Regions from separate parts of the Homo sapiens genome. Here region 2 is linked to region 1. The links come from fine-mapping of genetic effects on gene expression. A gene starts in region 1. The other region holds a variant in brackets. All regions are shown on one strand. Distances are between the middles of the regions.

Region 1 (4,395 bases):
CACACATATCCTTTCCTTCAGCAGACAATCTTGCCTCCTTCTTCAAGGAGATAAACAAATAGGTCATCAGCTTTGGTCCTATAACTTGTCACCACCAACTACAACAGTCTACCTCTACCTTCTGCCACGTGTGCCTCTCCAGCTCGGTTATGAGGGAAGAACTGTTCCTCCTCTGCCAGGATGAACCATCTTGTGCATGCTTCGTATACTCCTTGGTTCTAGGCAGGCAGCTTCTGAATTGGCCTTCAGCAATCCCCATCTCCTCCTATTTATGCCCTTCTGCAATCTCCTTACTTAGAGTGTGGGACTATTGACTTGCTTCTAATGAGAAGAATATGGCAAAAATGATAGGCTGTCACTTCCAAGATCAGGTTATAGAAGACTGTCACTTTCATCTTGCTTGTACTCTGTCACCAGCTGGCTCTGATGAAGCACCTCCCATGTTGCAAGCTGCCTTATGGAGAGGTCCTTATGGCAAGGAACTCAGGGCAGCCTTGGGCTGACAAGAACAATAAACAGAGGTCCTCAATTCAATAGCCCACGAGGAGTTTGCGTCCTGCCAACAACCATCTAGGGTGGCTGAATGTACATCCTTTGCCAGTTAAGCCTTGAGATGATGGTAGCCTCAGGTGACACCTTGATTTCAGCCTGTGAGAGACCCTGAGCCAGCAGGCCCGCCTAAGTGGCACCCAGATTCCTGGCACACAGACCTACGAGATAATAAATGTTGACTTAAATCAACTTGTTTTACACATCAATAGATACCTAACAGATCTGAAAGTTTTCACACCTATATTTGATCCTCGATTCAGGATGAATACCTGCAGAAATACAGCTTGCTTTCTATCTCTAAAGTGGTGCTGTCCAATAAAATATATAATGAGCCACAAATGTGAACCATATATTTTTCAGCCACATTAAAAAAAGTAAAAAGAAACAGGTGAAATTAATTTAAATAATGTATTTTATTTCATCCATATGTCAAAACTACATTGTTTAATTATGTAATTCATATACCACATGATTAAAGAGATAATTTAGATATATATTTTTTGGACTGAGTCTTTGAAAACCCATGTTTATATTACACTGGCAGACATCTCCATTCAGACTAGCCACCCAATGGACCACCTGTGGCTAGCAGCTACCATACTGGACAGCTCAGCTTGAAAGAGAAAAACCTGGCCAGGCGCAATGGCTCACGCCTGTAATCCAGCACTTTGGGAAGCCGAGGCAGGAGGATCAACTGAGGTCAGGAGTTCGAGACCAGCCTGGCCAACATAGTGAAACCCCATCTCTACTAAAAACACAAAAATTAGCTGGGCGTGGTGGTGCATGCCTGTAGTCCCATCTACTCCGGGAAGAGGCTGAGGCAGGAGTATTGCTTGAACCCAGGAGGAGGAGGTTGCAGTGAGCTGAGGTCGTACCACTGCACTCCAGCCTGGGCGACAAGAACGAAATTCCGTCTCAAAAACAAACAAAACCTCAGTTTGCTCAAAAAACAATTTCTCTTCAAACATTTTTTTTCTGTTTTATTTATTTATTTTTTTGAGAAAGAGTCTAGCTCTGTCACCCAGGCTGGAGTGCAGTGGCGCCATCTCAGCTCACTTCAATCTGCCACCTGGGTTCAAGCGATTCTCCTGTCTCAGCCTCCCAAAGGTCTGGGATTACAGGCGCATGCCACCACACCCAACTAATTTTGTGTTTTTATTACAGACAGGGTTTCACCATGTTGGCCAGCCTGGATTCGAGCTCCTGACTTCAGGTGATCTGCCCGCCCTGGCCTCCAAAAGTGCTGGAATTACAGGCGTGAGCCACTGCACCTGCCTTTTTTTTTTTTTTTCTGTTTTAAAAAAGGTCTCTTTTGCTGGGCACAGTGGCTCACACCTGTAATCCTAGCACATTGGGGAGGCCAAGGCGGGAGGATCACTTGAGTCCATGAGCTAGAGACCAGTCTGGGCAACATAGTGAGACCCCATCTCGAAAGAAAGAAAGGAAGAAAGGAGGGAGGGAGGGAAGGAAGGAAGGAAAGAAGGAAGGAAGGAAGAAGGGAAAAGTATCTTTTGAGAATTTTCCAACCAGTTGAATTTGCTTCTGTGGCCTCCCCGGGTGCCCTGTAGCCGTGTGGACAAAACCAGCATGGCGTCGAGGGAAGCGCTAGTCCCCTAAACCCCACATGGTCTCCAGAGGCTGGCTTCTGGGAAATGCCTCATTCTGTTGGTGTGCGGGTTTCCCACTATAGTCACTGTGCCCAAGCTCCCCCACGCCTGCTCTCTCAGCACAGGTCTGCCCTGCCCTTGGTTGTCGGGAGCTCTGCCATTTCCCCATCGGTTTCCCCCTAGTTCCGCTGATTCCCCGGGACTTGGAAGACTCCTCCACTGGCTCTCAGCTTTGGGCTGTCCTTCCTGTGCCTCTGCTACGGGGTCTCCTGGCCCCACACTTTGGTGACCCTCGGCAGGCATACAACTTACTAATTTTCTGTTCTTTTCCTCCTCAGGGCCTATGAGAAATTTTCTGGGTCTTCTGCAGGCCTCACTGGAAATGAGGGGGCCTGGGGTGGGGACCTCCCAGCCCTTCTGCGCTTGGCCCCCGCCCCATCCTGTTCTTCTGGAGCTGCTCCGTGTTGGGCAGGCAGTCTGGGAAGCTGCCTCGCCTTAGGATTCCAAATGGAAACAGCTTTCTGCCTTTGGATTCTCATACATATGATGGAGATTTCTTTCCTACCCCTCACATCCATCAGCCTGGATTATCAACCACGGTCTCTCCTTTTCCCCCAACCTGCTGAAACAATCAGCAGTATCTGATTTTTTTTTCTCTTTCCAGGCTCTTAACTACAGCAAAATAAGAAACTGAAACAAGCAAACAAAAAGGCGTGGGCAGTGTTAATTCCTTTCGCCAGTGTTAGGAGCTATCCTGCAGCCTTCCTTATTCCAATGTTAACTGAGACAGACTCTTTGCCTAGGTATCCAACCTCTGTCTTCATCTTCCTATCAAAGCCCGCTTAGTTTTGAGAGCAATACTTTTCCCTCAACTAGTTCTAAGCTTTTGCTAGTTTAAAAGCACTTTGGTGTAAGATCAACATGAAAGTCATGTTAAAAAGAAAAATCATCATTCACCACTTCAACTGACCCCATGTGTTGTTAGTCTGGGCCTGACCCCCCAATGAATGTCACTGAGCTAGTGGGAGAAGAGAAGCATACCTCATTAAAAGTATGTAAAGATATTATTCTCTCCCTCTGCCACCCTGGCATAGCCCCCAATGCAGTCTATCCCTTTCTGCAGGATTTTTTTTTAGACCGAGTTTCACTCTTGTCACCCAGGCTGGAGTGCAGTGGCATGATCTTGGCTCACTGCAACCTCTACCTCCCAGGTTCAAGTGATTCTCCTGCCTCAGCCTCCCAACTAGCTGGAATTACAGGTGTGCACCACCATGCCTGGTTAATTTTGTAGTTTTAGTAGAGATGGAGTTTCATCATGTTGGCCAAGCTGGTCTGGAACTCCTGACCTCAGGTGATCTGCCCCCCTAGGCCTCCTAAATTGCTGGGATTACAGGCATAAGCCACCACACCTGGCCATTTTTAAAATTATTATTATTATTTTTGAGACAAGATCTCACTCTGTCACCCAAGCTGGAGTGCAGTGGTGCGATCTCGGCTCACTGCAGCTTCAACCTCCCAGGTTCAAGAGATTGTCCCACCTCAGTCTCCCAAGTAGCTGAGATTACAGGCACGCACCACCACACCCAGCTAATTTATATATTTTTCTGTAGAGACAGCGTTTCACCATGTTGGCCAAGCTGGTCTGGAACTCCTGACCTCAAGTGATCCATCCGCTTCAGCCTCCCAAAGTGCTGGAATGACCAGAGTGAGCCACCGTGCCTGACCTCTGCAGGATTATTTACCACTAGCTTGAAAACAGGCTGCAGCAGGAATGGCCACATTCTGTAATAAAACTCTCCCTTTTCTCCCTAGATTTCTGGTTTTGTAGAGAGAGGTATGCCCAAGTACATTTTCTCACATCCTTTGCAGAGAGATGAGGCCGATGAGAAACAAATCCAAATCACTAGTGTTGCTTCTGGGAAAGCTATCTTAAAAATGATTACTCAGCTGGTAGCTGCCTTTTGCTGTCTCCCTCCTTTTGCATTTTTTCCTTATTTGGAATGTAGAAAGTGATGGCTGGAACTAGCAACCATCATGTGATCATGAGGCATCCTTGAGAATTGAAGCCTGGTGCTAAAAATGAGGTGACAGGGTAGAAGGAGTACAATATTGATGTCTAATGTCAGCTTAGATAGCCTAGATTTATTACCACAGGCCCTGGGATATCTATCTCTACATGTCATGTTATGTGAGAAAAATGAACTCTTGTCTGGTTGAAGCAATATTTCCATTTCTA
Region 2 (4,395 bases), 54 kb before region 1:
AGGAGTTCAAGACCAGCCTGGCCAACATGGTGAAACCCCATCTCTACTAAAAATACAAAAATTAGCTGGGTGTGGTGGTATGTGCCTGTCATCCCAGCTACTCGGGAGGCTGAGGCAGGAGAATTGCTTGAACCAGGACCTAGGAGGCAGAGGTTGCACTGTGAGCCGAGATCCAGCCACTGCACTCCAGCCTGGGCTACAGAGGGAGACTCTGTCTCAAAACAAAACAAAACAAAACAAATAATATGCAAATAGTAGATTGAACCGTAAGTATCTGACAGGTAAACACTTAGTGATATGGTTTGGCTCTGTGTCCCCACCCAAATCTCATCTTGAATTGTACTGTCATAATTCCCACATGTTGTCGGAGGGAGGTGGTAAGAGAGAATTTGAATCATGTGGGCAGTTTCCCCCATACTGTTCTCGTGGTAGTGAATAAGTTTTACGAGATCTGATGGTTTTATCTGGGGTTTCCTCTTTTGCATCTTTCTCATTTTCTCTTGCCACCCCTATGTAAGCAGTACCTTTTACCTCCCGCCATGATTCTGAGGCTTCCCTAGTCATGTGGAACTGTGAGTTCAGTTAAACCTCTTTTTCTTCCGAGTCCTGGTATTTCTTTATCAGCAGCGTGAAAACAGACTAATGCACTCAGTAAATGTTAACAATTATTGTTATTCCTTTTTCTTCCATCACTTCTTTCATAAATTAACAATAATCAAGCAACAAGTGTACATTGTCTTCCTCCCAGTTATAAGACATTGCTGGGTTCACAAATAAATAGACAAAGTCTCTCTACTATAGAAAGGTTCAAAACAATTGGTAAGATAAATCATAAATAAGTGATGATTTAGCAAATATAAGAGAAAATAAATTATCAGTTTCCAAATAAATATTGCAGAGCGTGTACATCAAAGAAATTCAGAAGGGGGAGAAGTAACTCTGGAATGATGTGATCTGGAAGTTTTTACAGAGGAGGAGCAATTTGGATAGGCACAAAAAGTGTAGGTGGGCCGGGCGCGGTGGCTCATGCCTGTAATCCCAGCACTTTGGGAGCCTGGGGTGGGTGGATCACCTAAGGCTGGGAGTTTGAGACCAGCCTGACCTATATGGTGAAACCCCGTCTCTACTAAAAGTACAAAATTAGCCAGGTGTGGTGGTGCACACCTGTAATCCCAGCTACTCGGGAGGCTGAAGCAGGAAAATCGCTTGAACTCAGGAGGCGGAGGTTGTAGTGAGCTGAGATTGCGCCACTGCACTCCAGCCTAGACAACAAGAGTGACGCTCCATCTCAAAAAAAAAAAGAAAAGAAAAAAAAGTGTAGGTGGAGGTAAAAACAGTGGGGAGGGAGAGCGAGGATTATAATGTCAGACAGGGAACGTGATGAGACTAAAAGCGTGGAGGCAAGAAAGTGCAGGGTGTGTTTGAGGAACAGGAAATCACTGTTGGTGGGAAAGTACTTCACTGGCGAGTGTTTAGTGAGGAAAAAGGGTGGTTAGAGTTATTTTAGGGGGAAATTTGTTGGCATATGGACATTTTTGTTAGAGCTATCTTACAAGTGAAGTTGAAAAAACATGACCGGTAACATTTTAGTCGTGGGTGAGAAAGAAAAATAGCTCAGAGCATTCTGAGGAATGTCAGATATGCAAAATTTATCAGGCCCAGAAAGATGCGAGCATGAGACTTCAGTCATTTGCCCCCCATCCCTGCA[C/T]CCACGTTTAGGGACAATTGTTTAAAGGCACTTTATTCTTTCTTTCCTCCTGGTAGTTTCCAAACTAGCTGATAAATTATCTAAAATGTCACTGCAAGTTGCACCATGTGACTGTCACTACTGTCTTCATGTTTCTGGAATTTGTGATACAAAGAAAAATGTACAGGCAATCACTAATCAATGTTATTTTTGTAAACCAATGAGAATCCCTGTCAAGCAAGTTTGTAATAGCTACTTCCTGTCCCCTTTTTTTTGCCTATAAAAGCCTTCTTGTAACAAAGGCTCATATTTAAGGTTACTTGGGTCTGAGTCTTCCAGGCAGCTGTTCTTATCTTGGCTCTAGTAAACTCTTTTTTTTTTTTTTTTTTTTTTTTGAGATGGAGTCTCACTCTGTGGCTCAGGCTGGAGTGCAATGGCACCATCTCGGCTCACTGCAACCTCTGCTTCCTAAGCTCAAGTAATTCTCCTGCATCAGCCTCCAGAGTAGCTGGGATTATAGATGTGAGCCACCAACCTGGCTAATTTTTGCATTTTTAGTAGAGATGAGATTTCACCATGTTGGCTAGGCTGGTCTCAAACTCCTGGCCTCAAGTGATCCACCTGCCTCAGCCTCCCAAAATGTTGGGATTACAGGCATGAGCCACTGCACCTGGCTGAGCAAACTCCTTAAAATTATATTTTGTGCCCCAGTTTCTTCCCTTAGGTTGACAGGGGTACACATTTAATTCTTCTCTAGCATTGCATGGCCATTGTACTGGTTCATTTTATGTGTCAACTTGACTAGGTTAAAGGATGCCCAAGTAGCTGCTAAAACATTATTTCTGGGTATGTCTGTGAGGGTGTTTTTGGAAGAGATTAGCCTTTGAGTTGGTTGACTGAGTAAGGAAGACTGTGCTCACCAGTGTAGGTGAGTATGGTCTGATCCCATGAGGGCCCAGATAGAAACACAAAGATGGAGAAAAGGTGATTTGAAAAAAAGAAAACCCAAATTTTAGACAATATTAATTTAACAGAGTTTATTTGAGTAAAGGATAATTCATGAATCAGACATCACTTAAAACCAGAAGAGGTATAGAACGCTCTGCTACAGCAGGGTGGGCAGAGAGCTTTTGTAGGTGGACACACGAGTAAGACAAAGAAAATATACTTGATTGGTTAGAATGGAAAGACCTTGGTTAGAGGGCAGCTGCAGTTTCGATTGGTAAAGTCTCTATTTTCATTTTACTGTTTATGTTGGGCTTAGGTAGACACTAGAACTACCTCAGTCTAACCACCTCCCTGTTAAGAATTTTTCAGCAGGGTGAATTCACTCTTCTTGAGCTGGGACATCCATCTTCTCCTGCCCTTGGGCATTGGTGCTCTTGATTCCTGCACTTTCAGACTTGACCAGGATTTCCACCATTGGCCCACCCCCACATTCTCAGGTCTTCAGACTTGGACTGGGATTTAAACCGTTGGCATCTCTGGTTCTCAGGCCTTTGAGTTTATCCTGGAATGACACCTCCAGTTTTCCTGGGCATCCTGCTTGCAGAGGGCAGATCACAGGCCTTCTCAGCCTCCATAATCATGTGAGCCAATCCCTCATGCTCAATCTCTTTCTATATATCTATACATACCTTATTAGCTCTGTTTCTCTGAAGAACTCTGCCTGATACAGTCATAATATGTTCTTTAACATTGTATTAGTCCGTTTCCATGGTGCTGATAAAGACATACCTGAAATTGGGTAATTTGTAAAGGAAAAGAGGTTTAATGGACTCACAGTTCAACATGACTGGGGAGGCCTCACAATCATGGTGGTAGGTGAAAGGCACATTTTACATGGTGGCAGGCAAGAGATAATGAGAGAGAAGTGAAAGGGGAAGCCCCTTATAAAGCCATCTGATATCGTGAGACTTACTCACTATCACAAGAACAGTATGGGGGAAACTGCACCAATGATTCAGTTATCTCCCACCAGGTCCCTCCCACAACATGTGGGAATTATGGGAGCTATAATTCAAGATGAGATTTGGGTGGGGACACAGCCAAACCATATCAAACATGAATGTAATCAAAATAGTAGAAGGCCATGGGCATATGCCAAACTCTTCACAGGGAACCCCTTTATACCTTCTCTCCCAGCTTTTAAAACAGCACTTCAAGCCAAACAGCTATCATGCAGCATTTACCTGGTATCATGCAGTGTAAAACCTGCTTTTATAGACTGCTCATTCTTTGCACTGTCCATTTTAAGCCCATGAGACATACTCATTGACCTGGCAGAAGAAAATATTCAGCCTTGGATTGATAGATAAGTACTTATATTATATTAAATGTAATTATCTATTAAATCACATCTACTGTTGTCACAGTTTATCATTTTTTGGGGGTGTGATGATGCTGAAATATTATGGAACAACTAGAGTAATTTACATATTCTTTACTTTGGTCACATTTTTCATTGAAGCCATCAAAATACTTAAAAATAATTTTCACTCTTTAGTATCAAATTATCTCATGTAGATTGACTGTTTCAATAAAAGCATCTAAAGCAGCATTTGTAGCCCAAGTGTCAGAGTTGATGTTTTCCAAGATTAAAATGTTTTAATTGTAAAATACCCAAATAAGCTCAGGTCCAAGAAATATATTTTTGATGATAAGTGCTTCTTCTTTTAAGATTATTTTTTAGTGACCACAATCAAGAG

Evidence for each region. PIP is the estimated chance that this variant, and not a neighbour inherited with it, causes the effect.
Region 2: its variant is the best candidate, but not a certain one, in a credible set for the expression of LINC02111 in testis (GTEx, PIP 0.54).

The regions. Positions count from the first base shown.
Region 1 is chr5:17,384,731-17,389,125 of GRCh38, forward strand. It overlaps LINC02111 (long intergenic non-protein coding RNA 2111), which reads right to left and starts at 2,580. Exons shown (of 3, transcript NR_033975.1): 1 at 2,472-2,580; 2 at 113-710.
Region 2 is chr5:17,331,005-17,335,399 of GRCh38, forward strand. No RefSeq gene overlaps it. Among named protein-coding and RNA genes, the nearest start is that of LINC02111, 54 kb to the right of the region's middle. The variant C/T (reference allele first, on the strand shown) is at 1,709.